Homo sapiens: one gene and its partner. The protein of the gene in region 1 purifies or fractionates together with the protein of each later gene. This does not show direct contact. Each region holds a gene or a part of one and is shown in the gene's direction. Other genes may lie near its edges.

Evidence for each region. Proteins that work in one complex are often made in the same cells at the same time.
Region 2: the proteins of TMOD1 (region 1) and NEXN purify together in Homo sapiens (co-immunoprecipitation; one large-scale study listed by IntAct). This does not show direct contact.

The regions. Positions count from the first base shown.
Region 1 is NC_000009.12:97,564,166-97,567,665, forward strand, and holds part of TMOD1 (tropomodulin-1), read left to right. Parts: coding exon 1-3; intron 4-1,682; coding exon 1,683-1,790; intron 1,791-3,500. UniProt on the Homo sapiens protein: Blocks the elongation and depolymerization of the actin filaments at the pointed end. The Tmod/TM complex contributes to the formation of the short actin protofilament, which in turn defines the geometry of the membrane skeleton.
Region 2 is NC_000001.11:77,895,124-77,898,623, forward strand, and holds part of NEXN (nexilin), read left to right. Parts: intron 1-3,500. UniProt on the Homo sapiens protein: Involved in regulating cell migration through association with the actin cytoskeleton. Has an essential role in the maintenance of Z line and sarcomere integrity.

The DNA.
Region 1 (3,500 bases):
CGGGTAAGGTCCATTTATTTCACTTTACCTGTGTGTGGCTGGGGGAGGGGGAACCATGTCACCCAAATGCAAACGGTCCAGGGTTGGTTGTGCAGAGTAAACAGGGTCCTGTTTGGATTCTGGGTGTTTCTGCATTGGGAATAGGGACAAAACCTTTGCAAATGGGAGCCTTTAAGAGGGGTGGGCAGTGTAAACAAGTGCATCTGGCAGTCCTGGTTTCTTTCTGAGGATGATATCAGGCCCAGATGTTTAGCACGGGCCAACCCAGCTTTGATCTGGAAACCTGCCACGTTATTCAAAACACTGAGAGATTCTCCGAGATAAAATCATGAGTCAGACACACGCTGCTGCATGGGATCTCAAGGCTGGAAAAGTCCGGTGCCCACTAGGCTCGGGGGTAACACAGGCCCTGGGCAGGCCCCTCCCCTGTGCCATCGCTGCTGCTATATCACGTTCATATTCAGCCTTGTTTTACAGCCACAGAAGGGAGCTGTTGGCCAAAATGTCCAAAGCGATATCCCAAGCTGTCTGCCCTTTTCTCTGTGCACATTTCCTTATGTGATCCCGGGGCAGGGGAGGGACAGGTGGACAGGCAGTCTCACCCTGAACAGGCCGCCGCAGGAAGAATTCAGAGACAAATGCAGCTTTCTACCCACCTGCTGAGCCCAGAGACCAGTGGATTAGTTCTGGGAGGGGGGTGGGGGTAAGACTAGAAGCCAGCCCCCCATGCCCCTGCTCCACTTTCTTTCCTTCTCCACTTTATTTTAAGCAGCTGCCAGCCCCACGGCACCATCAGATTGGAAACCTGCACCCTAGTGTTCACCCCCACCTGGCCTCCCCATGCTCTGCTCCCATGGGAGCTAAAGTGACGCTCTGAGAGATTGGTAAAAACACAGCCATGTTTTCTTTCATGTGCCCAGTAGGAGACATTGGCACAATTCAGAATGCTGCCCACTGGCAGTGAATGCTGCCTCAGGGCCACATGAGGGATGGAATCTCCCTGTGAGGCCCCAGCCTCCTCTGGGCCTCAGTTTCTCCTCTGCACTGTGAGCCTGTTGGACCAGATCAGTGGTTTTCACCTGAGAAGATTAAAAAATATATACCAACGCCCAGGCCTGACCCTAGAGATTCTGATTCTATTGTTCTGGGCCGGCCCAAGCATCACCATTTTGTAAAAGTTCCCCAGGAGTCTCTGATGTGCCGCTGGAGCAGAGACCCCCTGGGGTAGATGTCTCTTAAAGAGTATCATATGCAACCCCCTTACCTGTTTTCCAGAAACAGGGCCAGAGAGGGCAGGAGGCTTCCACAGAGACACCTAGCAAGTCAGGAACATTGCCGATCATTGGGACCAAGGCCAGGTTCCAGCCCCTCTCACACCCCTAGTCCTAGCTCTTTGCACAATACTACACGCCTTAATTTTTGCCTCTTCTCTGGCCCCCAAGTGCACAAAGAAAGAGGTTACAGGTCTTATCTGAAATTTTCAGGGAGGATTTTCTAAATCTGTTTACCAGAAAGTTCTCCCCAGATTTCAGTCGTCCGGGACAAAGCCTAAACCTTTTGCCCATTCAGCTTTTTGGCCAGAGACTTGCCAGGAATCAGAGAGTAGCCAGGCTAATCCACCTGCCTCAGCCTGTCCCAGAGGAGGCTTCTGGTCACTCTCTCTGTTGCCTTTCTTTGTGCAGAATATCCCCATCCCCACCCTCAAGGCATATGCAGAAGCCCTGAAAGAAAACTCATATGTGAAGAAGTTCAGCATCGTGGGGACACGGAGTAATGACCCCGTGGCGTATGTATGTACCTTTCTGTTCTGTTGCATTGTGGCTGGGGGCCTTGAAACAGAAGGGTTGAAATATGTGGCCTCAGGACTGGTTGTATCCCACTAACAAAGAGCTCTATGTGGTACAGTGGAAGGCATTGGACCAGGAGCCATGAGGGGTGTAGAGGGAACAGCCATCACCTGGCACCACCTACACGTCATCCTGGCCAATCCTCACACCCACTTCTGGTCTCAGATGTGCAGTTCTCCCCACTTTGCACTTAAAAAATCTAGGGTTCGGAGAGGTCAGGCAACTTGTTTTGTCCAGTCACACAGCAAGTGAGAGGTGGACCTGCAAGTCCAGTGCAGTCACGTGACCCCTAAATCTTCACTCGGCACATCATATTAGAACAAGAGCCTGCCCTTCCCTGTTCCTCAGTTTTTCCATCTCTAAAATCAATGGTTTTGGTTGGGCGCAGTGGCTCACACCTGCAATTCCAGCACTTTGGGAGGTCAAGACGGGTGGATCACTTGAGGTCAGAAGTTCGAGACCAGCCTGGCCAACATGGTGAAACCCCGTCTCTACTAAAAGTATAAAAATTACCTGGGCTTGGTGGTGCATGCCTGTAATCCCAGCTACTCGGGAGGCTGAAGCAGGAGAAGCACTTGAGCCCAGGAGGCGGAGGTTGTAGTGAGCCGAGATTGCACCACTATACTCCAGCTTGGGCGACAGAGCGAGGCTCCATCACAAAATAAATAAATAAATAAATAAAAATTTAAAAAAATAAAAATGATGGTTTCATCAGCAGGTCCCAATGACCAATTTTATTTTATAAGTCTCAAAAGATATTTCTGATCAAATTAAATTGTACTTACTCTGAAGTAGCCATCAACTCTTCTTTTTAAACATCCAGCACATATGTATTGAGAGTCTCTCTGTGCCCAACGCTGAATTAGGTTCTGGGAATACAATTGTGACCAGTCTCAGCTTCCACTTTCATAAAGATTCTGGTCCATTTGGCCAAGCAGACAACTAAAGGGTAACAGTACAGTGCAATTACTGCAAAGCTAGATTCCTGCAAGAAGGGCAGAAGCTAGTTTATCAGGGCTAGTAATTAACCATTTAGTAGCAATCGATTTTTTTCTGATTCTTAAAATAGGTAAGACAGTGTTCTTTCATATTTTTGAAATAATAGAAATAGCTCACAGTCTCTCATTGCTGTCAGTGGGGAACCTCTGGATTGATGACCTCTGACCTCAGATCTCCATGGTTCCTTGCCCATAGGAACACAGCTGGCAAAGCCACATGCCCTGTATGCTACTATGTCATGGGTCAGAAACCAAGCACATCCATTCTGGCCCTCAGCTCAGGTCCACAAATGTTTTTTGGGCATGGACTCTGCCAGACCAACAGCTGATATCAGCCTATGCACACCAGTATGCCCGTGTCAAACACTGAGATGCTTCTGGGCCAGTTGGTAAATCAGGCTGCCAGAGCTCTGTCAGGGCCCCCACCGCCTGCCCTAGCTTTTCTCCTGGCCCCGGTTCCTCCACTGGGACCCAGCATACAAGGAGTTAACACCTGGCAAGACAGGGCCTCCAGGACCTGCTCAGCCACCAGCATGTCCAGTTGGATCAGCCTAGCAGGTTGCCTACTGGTTGTTATTTTGATTTTTTTTATTAGATTTGATTAAGCCAGGCCAGGCCTTTCCTGGGAGCAGGAAGGTTCTGGTGGAAGACACAG
Region 2 (3,500 bases), on another chromosome or scaffold:
AAACTCCGCCTCCCAGATTCACACCATTCTCCTGCCTCAGCCTCCCGAGTAGCTGGGACTACAGGCACCCGCCACCATGATTGGCTAATTTTTTTGTATTTTTAGTAGAGATGGGGTTTCGCCGTGTTAGCCAGGATGGTCTCGATCTCCTGACCTCTTGATCCGCCCGCCTTGGCCTCTGAAAGTGCTGGGATTACAGGCATGAGCCACCGCGCCCGGTCACCTATAGTGTAATTTTTAAAGTATAAGGTTGCAACCTTCATTAATTAAATGCAATAAAGTTACATTATACCTAAGTTTATGTTTCCTGTACAAGTGAAAAATGATAAAAATTTAGGCTCATATTTTATGAAGCTCAAAACAATTTTGTTGCTTGTTCCAAAGACTGTAAGAATTAGGTTTCAACATTTACTTGTAGCATATAGTTAAGTATTACGTTTAAAATCTTCTTAAAAGTTGGCTGGGCACTGTGGCTCACGCCTGTAATTCCAGCACTTTGGGGGTGCAAGGCAGGCGGATCTCTTGAGGCCAGGAGTTAGAGATCAGTCTGGTCAACATGGTGAAACCCCATCTCTGCTAAAAAATACAAAAATTAGCCGGGTGTGGTAGTGCACACCTGTAATCCCAGCTACTTAGGAGGCTGAGGCATGAGAATCACTTGAACCTGGGAGGTGGAGGTTGCAGTGAGCTGAGATAGTGCCATTGCACTCCAGCCTGGGCGACAGAGCAAGACTCCATCTCAAAAAAGAAATCTTAAAAGTTGACAGCCTGGTTGGGCACAGTGGCTCACATCTGTAATCCCAGCACTTTGGTAGGCTTAGGTGAGCAGATCACTTGAGGTCAGGAGTTGGAGACCAGCTTGGCCAACATGGTGAAACCCTGTCTGTACTAAAAAAAATTAGCCAGGTGTGGTTGCATGTGCCTGTAATCCCAGCTATTCGGGAGGCTGAGGCAGGAGAATTGCTTGAACCCAGGAGGCAAAGGTTGCAGTGAGCAGAAATGACACCACTGCTCTCCAGCTTGGGTGACACAGTGAGACTTTGTCTCAATAAATAAATAAATAAATAAATAAATAAGTTGTCGGCCAAGCACAGTGACTCAGAAACTGAGCTCATTTTCTGACTTAAACATGCCTTTTAATTTAATCTCCAGTTAATGGTAACCCTGTTCACCCATTTGCTCAAACTAGAAACCTTGGGTTCATCCTTTTTTATTTACTTGTTTGTTTGTTTATTTCTCATCCTCTGACTCTTGCTTGGGTTCATTCTTGACAATATTCCTCTCCTCACCTCTACCCCTCCAAATCAAATTGGCCAAACCTCTTGCAATTGTGCCCCACTACAGTGTAAGTTCCATCAAGAAGGCTGGGCATGGTGGCTCACACCTGTAATCCCAGCACTTTGGGAGCCCGAGGCGGGTGGAGCTCAGGAGTTCAAGGCCAGCCTGGCCAATATGGTGAAACCCCATCCCTACTAAAAATACAAAAATTAGCTGAGTGTGGTGGCAGACAGTTGTAATCCCAGCTACTCGGGAGGCTGAGGCACAGAACTGCTTGAACCTGGGAGGCAGAGGTTGCAGTGAGCTGAGATTGCACCACTGCACTCCAGCCTGGGTGACAGAGCAAGACTCTGTCTAATTAAAAAAAAAAAAATTTAGAAAAGAGAGAAGAATCAAATAGATGCAATAAAAAATGATAAAGGGGATATCACCACCGATCCCACAGAAATACAAACTACCATCAGAGAATACTACAAACACCTCTACGCAAATAAACTAGAAAATCTAGAAGAAATGGATAAATTCCTCAACACATACACCCTCCCAAGACTAAACCAGGAAGAAGTTGAATCTCTGAATAGACCAATAACAGGCTCTGAAGTTGTGGCAATAATCAATAGCTTACCAACCAAAAAAAGTCCAGGACCAGATGGATTCACAGCCGAATTCTACCGAGGTACAAAGAAGAGCTGGTACCATTCCTTCTGAAACTATTCCAATCAATAGGAAAAGAGGGACTCCTCTCTAACTCATTTTATGAGGCCAGCATCATCCTGATACCAAAGCCTGGCAGAGACACAACCAAAAAAGAGAATTTTAGACCAATATCCTTGATGAACATTGATGCAAAAATCCTCAATAAAATACTGGCAAACTGAATCCAGCAGCACATCAAAAAGCTTATCCACCATGATCAAGTGGGCTTCATCCCTGGGATGTGAGGCTGGTTCAATATACGCAAATCAATAAATGTAATCCAGCATATAAACAGAACCAAAGACAAAAACCACATGATTATTTCAATAGATGCAGAAAAGGCCTTTGACAAAATTCAACAATGCTTCATGCTAAAAACTCTCAATAAATTAGGTATTGATGGGATGTATCTCAAAATAATAAGAGCTATCTATGACAAACCCACAGCCAATATCATACTGAATGGACAAAAACTGGAAGCATTCCCTTTGAAAACTGGCACAAGACAGGGATGCCCTCTCTCACCACTCCTATTCAACATAGTGTTGGAAGTTCTGGCCAGGGCAATTAGGCAGGAGAAGGAAATAAAGGGTATTCAATTAGGAAAAGAGAAAGTCAAATTGTCCCTGTTTGCAGATGACATGATTGTATATGTAGAAAACCCCACTGTCTCAGCCCAAAATCTCCTTAAGCTGATAAGCAACTTCAGCAAAGTCTCAGGATACAAAATCAATGTGCAAAAATCACAAGCATTCTTATACACCAATAACAGACAAACAGAGAGCCAAATCATGAGTGAACTCCCATTCACAATTGCTTCAAAGAGAATAAAATACCTAGGAATCCAACTTACAAGGGAAGTGAAGGACCTCTTCAAGGAGAACTACAAACCACTGCTCAATGAAATAAAAGAGGATACAAACAAATGGAAGAACATTCCATGCTCATGCATAGGAAGAATCAATATCATGAAAATGGCCATACTGCCCAAGGTAATTTATAGATTCAATGCCATCCCCATCAAGCTACCAATGACTTTCTTCACGGAATTGGAAAAAACTACTTTAAAGTTCATATGGAACCAAAAAAGAACCCGCATCACCAAGCCAATCCTAAGCCAAAAGAACAAAGCTGGAGGCATCACGCTACCTGACTTCAAACTATACTACAAGGCTACAGTAACCAAAACAGCACGGTACTGGTACCAAAACAGAGATATAGATCAATGGAACAGGACAGAGCCCTCAGAAATAATGCCACATATCTACAACTATCTGATCTTTGACAAACCTGAGAAAAACAAGCAATGGGGAAAGGATTCCCTATTTAATAAATGGTGCTGGGAAAACTGGCTAGCCATATGTAGAAAGCTGAAACTGGATCCCTTCCTTATACCTTGTAGAAAAATTAATTCAAGATGGATTAAATACTTAAATGTTAGACCTAAAAGCATAAAAACCCTAGAAGAAAACCTAGGCAATACCATTCAGGACACAGGCATGGGCAAGGACTTCATGTCTAAAACA